2 separate regions of the Homo sapiens genome follow, and region 1 is linked to region 2. Evidence: fine-mapped expression QTL. A gene starts in region 2. The other region holds a variant in brackets. All regions are shown on one strand. Distances are from middle to middle. Region 1 overlaps ZNF670-ZNF695 (ZNF670-ZNF695 readthrough (NMD candidate)). Region 2 holds the start of AHCTF1 (AT-hook containing transcription factor 1).

Region 1 (5,376 bases), 31 kb before region 2:
CTGCCTCAGACTCCCGAGTAGCTGGGACTACAGGCGCCCGCCACCATGCCCAGCTAATGTTTTATAGTTTTAGTAGAGACGGGGTTAGCCAGGATGGTCTCCACCTTCTGACCTCGTGATCTGCCCACCTGGGCCTCCCAAAGTGCTGGGATTACAGGCGTGAACCACCGTGCCCGGCCTGTCTTGCTCTTCTTGTAGAGTCATCAGTCTGATTCCCATAATAAACCATTAATCTGTTAACCCATGGATTAATCCATGAGCAGACTAATCCATTCATGAGGGCAGAGCCCCACGACCCAATCACCCCATAAAGTTCCCCCATCTTGCAGTACTGCCACATTGGGGATTAAGTTTTTATTTTCTAATTTATTTTTTATTAAATTTTTTTTTGAGACAGAGTCTCACTCACTCTGTTGCACAGGCTGGAGTGCAGTGCCGCGATCTCAGCTCACTGCAACCTCCACCTCCTGGGTGCAAGTGATTCTCATGCCTCAGCTTCCTGAGTAGCTGGGATTACAGGCATATGCCACCATGCCCGGATAATTTTTGTATTTTTAGTAGAGATGAGGTCTCACCATGCTGGCCAGGCTGGTCTTGAACTCCTGACCTCAAGTGATCCACCTGCCTTGGCCTCCCAAATTGCTGGGATTATAGGCATGGGCCACTGGGCCCAGCCAGGGATTAAGTTTCAACATGAGTTTCTGAAGAGACAAACATTCAAACCATAGCAATATTTGTCTCCAGTCCTTTGGCATAGAGTTCCTAAAACCCTTTAATTTCCTGAGTAATAGGGGCGTTAGGAGAATCTTTTGTTCTGATATTTGGTCTTTGATCTTGGTTCCTGACACAGAGATCCTGATCACTTGGAATTTCCTGGGTAATAGTAGCGTCTTTTTTTCTCATGGGGCACCTCTTGGTGGGCTCCTGGATAGGGCTGGTCACCAGAAAGACCAAGCCATGATTAGAAACTTGGAACTTTCAGCTCAGCTCCCCATCCTCCATGAAGGGGAGAGGGGCGGAAACCTGAGTTAGTAATTGGTGGTGCCTATGTGATGAAGCCTCCATGAAAATCCCTGAACTGTGGGGTTTGGAGAGCTTCCGGGCTGCTGAACACGCGGAGGTGCTGGAAGGGCGATGCACCCTGGAGGGGGCGTGGAAGCCACCTGCCCCCTCCCCCATACCTGGCCCAATGCATCTCTCCCATCTGGCTGTCCATCTGTATCCTTTGTAATATCCTTCCTAATAAACAGGTGAACATAAATAAAGTGGTTTTCTGAGTTCTGTGATCCATCCTAGCAAATTATCAAATCCAAGGAGGGCACCATGGGAACTCCAGTGTACAGCCTGTCAGTCAGGAACACGGGTCACAGCCTGGGGCTTGTGACTGGCATCTAAAGTAGGGGCAGTCTTGTGGGACTAAGTCCTTAAGCTGTGCAATCTGACTCTAACTCCAGGTACATAGTGTCAGGATTGAGTTAAATTGTAGATCACCCAGCTGGTGTTGGAGAATTGGTCGGTGTGGGGAAAACTCCACACACATTTTAGCAACCGGAGAGGAAGTATTCTCTGACAAGTATGACTGTAGAAGAGAAAGCAGTTGGTTTTTCCTATTATACACAACTCCATTTAAAATCGCAATAACCCCCGCACCTGCTCTGGCACTGCCAGCCTTCTTCCCTGCCGGATTATTCTCCATAGCACTTGTCTTGTCATCTAGCGTAGAATTTACTTGTTTGTTCGCTTCATTGTTCCTCCCCTCCCACCACCATCACCACCACTGGAAGGGAAGCTCTACAAGTCAGGAAGTTTGCCTGTTTTTTATTTTTCTTTTTATTATGTTCTGTAAAATCAGAGTTTCACTCTGTTACCTAGGCTGGTCTCCAGTTCCTAGCCTCAAGTGATCCTCCTGCCTCAGCCTCCCAAAGTACTAGGATTACAGGCATGAGCCGCTGCACATGGCCAGTTTTGTCTGTTTGATTCACTGATGCCCAGCACCTAGATTAGTGGCTGGCACACAGTCACCTTTAGTAAACGTGTCATGAATAAATGAATGCAGAAGCAGTGGCAGGGGTGAGCTAGTTAGTGAAGGATGGCCACTTCCGGATGAGGGAATAGCATGGAAAAGCACTAAAGGCAGAAGGAGTGTGACATGATCGGAAATGGACATTAGATGAATATAGCTGGAATGAGGGGCATGGAGAAAGGTGGCAAGAGACAGGAGCCGGTTTGCCTGCTAAGGTGTTTGGACTTCAGCCTAAAGGCAGCGAGGAATCGTTGAAAGGTTTCAAGGCCGGGCATGGTGGCTCACACCTGTAATCCCAGCACTTTGGGAGGCCCAGATGGGCGGATCACAAGGTCAGGAGATCAAGACCATCCCGGTTATCTACTAAAAATACAAAAAAAAATTAGCCGGGCGTGGTGGCGGGTGCCTGTAGTCCCAACTACTCGGGAGGCTGAGGCAGGAGAATGGCGTGAACCTGGGAGGTGGAGCTTGCAGTGAGCTGAGATCGTGCCACTGTACTGCAGCCTGGGTGACAGAGCGAGACTCCGTCTCAAAAAAAAAAAAAAGAAAGGTTTCAAGCTGGCAGAAGGGGGTCAGAGAGGTGATGAAATCTGATGTTAGTAATTTAGAAAGATCACTCTTGCAGAAAACATCAGCTTAGAGGTGAAGAGGCCAGCCCCACGGAAGCCACTTGCTTCTCATTTTAGTAACTCTGATGATCAATGATGAGGACCTGAATTAAGTCAGTGGCCAGAGCCATTGAGAGGAAAGGGGATGGATTTGAGAGGTATTTAAGAAGTAAAATCTTTATGACGTGGTAAACAAATCGTCTGTGAGGTATGAGGCAGAGCAAGAGGCTAGGACGACCACCAGACTTCTTGCTTGGGTGGCTTGAGGGATGTGATGCCTTTCCCTGAACTCTGGTGTAAAGCAGTCGTGCTGCCTTGCTAGCCATATTCCTGTGACTGGGCCATGAGGGCCCAGTGCTGATGGGGCACAAAGCCCAAGCCATTCGTCAGTGTTCCCTACGTGTGCAAGCCCAGCTGGTGACAGGAAGTCTGACCTGAGCCCCACTAGTCAGCAGCCTCTCCTTCATTAGGAAAGACCAAGCCTAGCAT[A/G]TAAACATTGCTTTAATTTGTTAGCCAGGGCTTTGTGGCTTCCTGCCGCCTTGACTGCCCTATGAAGCAACCAGAGAAGGAAATTACACATGGATTTCCTTAAAGAGAAGTTCAGATTTCTCTAAGGTTATAAAGATACAGGCAGCAGTGATCGTCACCACCACCGTCTGCCATGACAACTCATATGTCTGCAAAGCACAGTGCCATTGAGGTGCCTCTCTATGCCTCTGCGTTCTTGAGATCTTTTCCCTTAACTGAATGATGAAGGGAGTGATGAAGAGGGCCCTTTGCTAAGCAGCCTGGTGAACACTGAAGTCAATGATCACAGGAGTCAGATCACCCTTACTACTAAGTTCAAGCTATCTGAACTCCCTTCCAGAATGGGAATGAGGCAGGCTGCAGGATGTGGAGCCCGAGGGCAGCACCCAAGAAAATAGTCTAAAGCATCTTTTGCCTATCTCAGGGACCAGTGGGTGACAATTGGGTCTGAAGCAAAATACTATAAGCAGAGGTAGCAAGAGGGAGTAGGTGAATTCAGTAGAGTGAATGGGAAGCATCCTGGAAAGATTCCCTGAGTGTCTTGGGAAGGAGAAGCAGAGCCTTCCTGTACGTATGAAGAGAGCTGTGAAAGCAACACTCTTAAACTCAAGCAGCTTATAGAACAATGGCCCTGCAGTTTATGGAATGGAGGTGGCAGGGAGTAGCAATAATGGGGCTTAGGATTTAAGAACAGGCACTGTGGGAGGCAGAAGATTTGCATTCATTCATTTTAAAAGACTTTATCGAGTATCTACGTGCACATGAAATAATAGGTAGCAATATAAGATTGTCACATGAACAAATAAACAGCTCATTATAGGCTGGTGCAGCTGGAGGTGGCTTTGAATGCATATATAACTTCTAATGAAGTGTTATGCCTAATTAGTGGAGTAACGTATATAATTTTTGAACTGATGATGCTAAAGATGAGAAGTTTGAGTTACATATGCATTATTTGATGTTAAGACTTATACCCCATGATTTTGAAATAGCTAAGTTTCTTGGTCATCAACTGACCCTACTATGAATTTCAATGAGTGAATCAAGTCAGGAAGCCCACCTTCATAGTGAACATGTTTTAAATGATAATTGAAATAGAAACATTTTTGAGCTCAAAAGACCTTCATAGATTCTTTACTTTTACAGCTCTCTCTACCATTCTTTGTGTTGTTTTTTGTTTTTTGTTTGTTTGTTTGAGACAGGGTCTCCACCCAGGCTGGAGTGCAGTGGCGTGATCTCAACCAGTCCAGGCTCAGGTGATCCTCCCACCTCAGACTCCCAAGTAGCTGGGACTGCAGGTGAGCACCACCATGCCCAGCTAATTTTTATATTTTTCTAGAGTTTTGCCATGTTGCCCAGGCTGCTCGCGAACTCCTGGGCTCAAGGGATCCACCGGCCTCAGCCTCCCAAAGTGCTGGGATTACAGGTGTGAGCCACCATGCCTGGCCTGTACCATTCTTTGAAGGATAGATAGCTATCTTGAACTATGGAGAAATGATCTGAATTTGTAGACAGAAATGAAGAAAAGAACTTGTCTTGCATGGCCAAGTAGGTCTTGTATAACCTTATCACTCTGAATGGAAACAAATGGTTCTCTGGGGCATATATATAGAGAGAGAACATAGGTAGTATTCTATACTGCTACACAATACCAACTGTTTTTACTTTTACATATATGACAAACAGCATTGGAGAAACTAGCAAACCACTCCAAAAGAAACCACACTCTATATAATATAAATTTTTCCCCAAACTGCAATCATATCAGCCTGCTTGAGTACAGCAAAATGCATCTAGGTTACTGGGAAATCTTAGGGTGGCAGTGTTGTTCACTCTAAATATATTAGTGTTCCAGATAAAACTGTGGTTCCCTTTTTGCTGATATGTTTACAATTTCTTTGAATAGAAAAGAGGAAGTATTACAATATGAGAAAGTTTCCTTAAATAATGACGTGGCAAAATGTGTGAAATCTGAGAGGAAAAGCAAGCAGTTAAATTATTCATGAAGCTTCTCAACTGGGTTTTTCAATGAGATTGGTTTGTTTCAAATAATACATTGTGAAATATGTAATCTAACATACTTAGAGGAAATGAAGTTCAGTGAAATTGACTGTTGCATGAAGATAGCAGCTTACCAAAATACATAACCATAGTTATGAAAACTCATACATTGCTACGGAACTAATGGATCAGAAACACTGGAGAGTTTTTGCTTCT
Region 2 (5,376 bases):
CACAACTGGAAGGGCTCTTAGAGCAAAGTTAATAAATATCTGTCTAATGAATCAGTCAATCCCTTGCTCTACACATCTGATAACTGAAGCCCAGAGAGGTCACTTGATTTTCCTAATGTCACACAGCTCACTAGCAGCACACCTGAGTTGATAATTCATGTCTTCTGACTATCGAGAGGTACAGTACTCATGAACTGGGCATAAAACAGTGCCAAAGAAAGTGTAGAATATGGAGCATGTGACATAAATCAGCACATCCAACAGAGGGTGGTTTCTGTTTGAAGAGATCTCTTTAAAATAATTAAGACAACGAACCCCAAACCTCCTACTGCAAAAGCAGTACTCTTTTTAACTGTTTCTATCACAACTTGGTCCAATACCTTGTGCAAACAAACATGATATGTATGGAGGTTGCTGTTACTAAAGAAACAAAAATTACAGAAAAAAGAAAATTACATTTCCAAAAGGCAGCATTATCTCTGAAAGAATATGGGCCAGGCATGATATCCATGCCTGTAGTCCCAGCTGCTCGGGAAGCTGAGGTGGGAGGATAGCTTGAGCCTAGAAGTTGGAGGCAGCAGTGGCACTGATGAGGCCATAGTGCCTGCGAATAGCCATGCACTCCAGTCTGAGCAACACAGCAAGACACAGTCTCTACAAAAATAAAAATAGGCTGGGCATGGTGGCTCATGTCTGTAATCCCAGCACGTTGAGAGGCTGAGGCAGGAGGATCTCTTGAGCCCAGGAGTAGAGACCAGCTTGGGTAACACAGTGAGACAGTCTCTACAAAAAATAAAAAATAAGGCCGGGCGCGGTGGCTCACGCCTATAATCCCAGCACTTTGGGAGGCTGAGGCAGGTGGATCACGAGGTCAAGAGTTCAAGACCATCCTGGCCAACATGGTGAAACCCTGTCTCTACTAAAAATACAAAAATCAGCTGGGCATGGTGGCGCACACCTGTAGTCCTAGCTACTCTGGAGGCTGAGACAGGAGAACCTCTTGAACCTGGGAGGCGGAGGTTGCAGTGAGCCGAGATTGTGCCACTGCACTCCAGCCTGGTGACAGAGCGAGACTCCGTCTCAAATAAATAAATAAATAAATAAATAAATAAAATAAAAAAATTAATGGGACGTAGTGGCGCATGGTGGTCCATGCCCATAGTCCCAGCTACTTGGAGGGCTGAGGTAGGAGGATCATTTGAGCCCACGAGTTCGAGGCTGCTGTGAGCCTTGATTACACCACTGCACTCCAGCCTGGGCGACAGAGCGAGACACTGTCTCAAAAATAAAAAAATTTAAAAAGCACATATGAAAGGTAACAGAAAAGTAGAAACTTTCCTGATAAAAGAGCATCTTCTTAAAATCCCTACTCTACCTCATGTTATAATCCTTTTACTTACTACTTAGTATTAAGGATACGTTCCCTATCTGTTTGAAACATGTTTGGCGCTGGGATTTGCTTCAAAGGAAGATACTAACAAGAAATAAGAAATTCCACAATGAAAACCCGCGGTGACCAAAAAGATAACAGTGATTTGGGGTAAAATTTTGACTAAAAAGATTAGGCTAGGCTGCGCGAGCATTTTTGGCCATGAAAGCACAGGAGGATGCTAGAAAAAACAGCACCGTGGAAAAAGCGTTTCCCCAGAAGTCTGGGAGCCCACCTTTGGCATGAAAAGCGGGAGCACAGGTTGTAGTGAGCCAAGATCGTGCCACAGCACTCCAGCCTGGGCAACAGAGCAAGACTCCGTCTCCAAAAAAAAGAAAAAGAAAAAAAGAAAAGTGGGAGCACAGAACAGAAAATACAGAATGCAAGCTGCCAATTATGGGAGAAAGATTATCACTCGGCCCCCAGCTGGCAGGGCCACACGATTACGTGACAAGAGAGTCCGCCTGCAATCGCAGCAGGCGGCTGGCAGAGCCCGGCGCGACCCCCAGCGAAGACTACCACTCCCAACTGCGCACGGGGCGCGCCGCCGGGGCCGCCAGGGCGGCTTCACGCGCAAGGCACTGTGGGACTCGTAGTCTTTCTCCCCACCAGCTCCTCGGAGGCGGAGAGACCCGATTTTTTTGTAAATGATCCGCCCTTCCAGGCCCTGCTTCTCTTTCCTCCCTTTCCCTCCCACCTCCTTCTTTCACCGAGAGTTTGAAAATTCCCGCGGAGCCGGCGCTAGAGCGCGGAACCATCGCGAGAACTCTGGTCCCTGCAGCCGCGATCTCCCGCCGGTTCTCCCCTCCCTCTCCGCCCTTTCCTCTGCTCCCTCCCTTCCGGGGCGTGTGGAACTCGGTTTTGTCGGCGCAGGGTAATGCGCAGAGCGGGGCCGGCGCTGTCCGAGGCGAGCAGGCAGCGTTGCAAGGGGAAGGACCCAGAAGCGCGGCGGGAGCAGCGACTGCGTTTTAGCCGCTGAGCGGTCTGCAGGCCTACAGCCCGCGAAGGCACTCTCGGGGGCGTGTGGCTCTGAGGTGGCCGGGGAGGTCGCAGGCGGCGGCCGGAGCGCAGAGGAGCGGCTTCAGCCGGGCGGAGGGGTGTGAGCCCGGCCCGTGGCGGCCACGTCTCCCGGGAGATGCTGTGACGGACCCGCACGGGAGGAGCTCGCGCCTGGCCTGGCGACCCGGTGGACTCGGCCCGCGGCGGCGCGCTCACCCGCCCCGTTCAGGTAGGGGGAAGGGAGGGAGGGGGTTGGGCCCGCGCGGCGGAGGGCGGGTCGCGCGGCCTGGACCCGCGGCGGCGGCGGCGGCGGCGGCGGCGGCGGCGGGGCTTCTGCCCCGCGAGCGCCGGGCCTAGGCCGGGCGTGCGCGGGGCCAACGGATGGGGCTCGAGGGGGCGAGCGGTGGCGGTGGCGGGTACGGCAGGCTCGCGGGCGCCGGGCTTCGTTACATAATCTCGGACCGGAGGAGCGGCGGCACATGGCGGCGGAGCGGCGCTGGTGGTTCGCGTCCTGCGCCGGCAGTCGGGTCCCTTTACGGACGGCCGGGGCCGCGACCCTTTCCCACTGTTCTCCCACGCGATGGACTCGTTGGCGGGCCTTTCCCCGAGGGAAGCGGCCGGCGTGCTGAGCCTGTCCTGTGTTGGCGTGTGTTCCACATGCGCTTGGGCCTGGCCACAGTGAGTAGTCCTGGCGGGGAAGAAGTTGGACTCGGGGCTCAGCCGTGAGGTTCCAGCTCACCCGATTGGTCAGATCAAGGAGATTTAAAATAAAAGCACATCTTGGGGTGCTTTGCCTTCCTTTTTCCTACCTGGGAAACAGGACGGTTTCTTTTGCCACTGGTTGACTGTTTTGGTTTGGGTGTTTTGTTTTGAGAGATGGGGAAATTTTGTTCTCAAAGCTTACGAGGTTCATACTATCTGTGTGCAAAGTTTTATGAGATGAGCGTTATTTTTATTTCCAAATCGTCAGTTGTAGAAATTTTTGGAAGAACTGGGTTCTTCATAGAACAAAACGTAAATCCTTTGGGGAAATCCTAAACGATATTTATTCTCAGAATATCCTAAAGAACCTGTAGATTTTAAGAACTGTCTTTGGCTGGGCGCAGTGGCTCCTGTCTGTAATCCCAGCACTTTGAGAGGCTGAGGCGGGAGGATCGCTTGAACCCAGGAGTTTGAGACCAGCCTGAGCAACATGGCGAGACCCCCCCTTTTTTTTTTTTAAACTGTTTTTTTGTGAGCTTTCACTGATAGAGTCTCTTAGGAGAGAAGAAATTAGAGTGGTTTACTTATTTCGGAGGATTTGACCTGGGATGACAAGCCCAGTTAAGGTTAATACTTGAAGGGATGTTTTAAGTGTGCCAAGCGCTATGGGAAGTCTACGTTGTCTCTGTACTGTGATTTTTGGATCCTGATCCTTCAGTAACATACTACCAAGCTGTCACGAGTTTGCAAACAACAATAATTATCTTGAAAAAATTTTTAAAACATCATGTCAACCGGGAATTGGTGGCGCCTCTAGTCGCGCGCCTACTTGGGAGGCTGAGGCGGGGGGAACGTTTGAGCTTCAGCCTCAAACTGAGAGTTCGAGGGTTGCAGTGAGCTAGGATCGCGCCGCTGCACTCAGCCTGTGTGACAGAGCGAGAACCTGTTGCTAAAATAAAATAAAAAAGATCGTTATACATCAGTTTTGAGACTTTTGTTTTCTTTTTATGCTTCTCCTTTTTCATAGGTACAGATACATCTTTTTTTTTTTTTGAGACGGGGTCTTGCTCTGTTGCCCAGGCTGGAGTGCAGTGGCACAATCTTGGCTCACTGCAACCTCCGTCTCCCAGGTTCAAGCGATTCTCCTGCCTCAGCCTCCTGAGTAGCTGGGATTACAGGCGCACGCCACCACACCCGGCTAATTTTTGTATTTTTAGTAGAGACGGGGTTTCACCATATTGGCCAGGCTGGTCTTGAACTTCTGACCTCGTGATCCGCCCGCCTTGGCCTCCCAGAGTGCTGGGATTACAGGCGTGAGCCACCGCGCCCGGCTGGTACAGATATATTTTAAGAGGAAGCAAAACGTTGTGTCTTTCACGCCTACCTTTAATATTTTCAGGGACTTTTCTTTCTTCCCAGAATGAAGTGTAACTTCCCTCGGTTAGCTCAAAGGTCTCTACAATAAGTATATGCTACTGTCTATCCTCATATGTTAACAAATTTTATGCTTTTGCTATTCCAGAATCGTCATCAATCCTGGACTCATTCTGTGGAAGAGATGTTTCCACTCTGATGTTTCTTTGCTCATGTCCTTCATCCTGGAGTGCCATCTTTCCTTTTTTAAATACTCAAATTTCAGGTCCTCCTTCTAAATCCAATGTTTTCACTGTATTTTTATTTTTATTTTTATTTTTTTGAGACGGAGTCTCACTTTGTAGCCCAAGCTAGAGTGCAATGGCGTGATCTTGGCTCACTGCAACCTTCGCCTCCAGGGCTCAAGCGATTCTTGTGCCTCAGCCTCCCGAGTAGCTGGGACTACAGGAACGCGCCGCCACACTCGGCTAATTTTTTGTATTTTAGTAGAGACGGGGTTTCACCATGTTGCCCAGGGTGATCTCGAACTCCTGAGCTCAGACGATCTGCCCACCTCGGCCAACCAAAGTGCTGGGATTACAGGCGTGAACCACCGCACCCAGCCCACTGTACTCTTTTATTTCCCCTTATCCCACTTTTTTACTGGGATCTCACAGCATATGTACCTCTATTGTAGTAGCATTTATTCTTTGTGTCTGATACTCTGATAATTGACTATATATCTCCTTTTCTAGATTGTAAACTCCTTAAAGTCAGGAAGAAGGTTATCTTCTTGACCTTGCATTCCTTTACTAACACGGTGTTTTAAAAGTAGTTTGTGATTTTAAAATGTTTGAATTAAGTTGGTAAGAAATTTCTGAAAGGCTTGAAGT

The links. PIP is the estimated chance that this variant, and not a neighbour inherited with it, causes the effect.
Region 1: its variant is fine-mapped to the expression of AHCTF1 in whole blood (TOPMed, PIP above 0.99).

The regions. Positions count from the first base shown.
Region 1 is chr1:246,959,889-246,965,264 of GRCh38, reverse strand. The region is part of intron 6 of ZNF670-ZNF695 (ZNF670-ZNF695 readthrough (NMD candidate)); the gene reads left to right. It also overlaps a transcript of ZNF695 not described here. Among named protein-coding and RNA genes, the nearest start is that of AHCTF1, 31 kb to the right of the region's middle. RefSeq lists enhancers at 2,683-2,732, 2,783-2,942. The variant A/G (reference allele first, on the strand shown) is at 3,121.
Region 2 is chr1:246,928,859-246,934,234 of GRCh38, reverse strand. It overlaps AHCTF1 (AT-hook containing transcription factor 1), which reads left to right and starts at 2,287. Exons shown (of 36, transcript NM_001323342.2): 1 at 2,287-2,657. RefSeq lists enhancers at 1,905-1,954, 3,075-3,164 and a silencer at 2,635-2,734.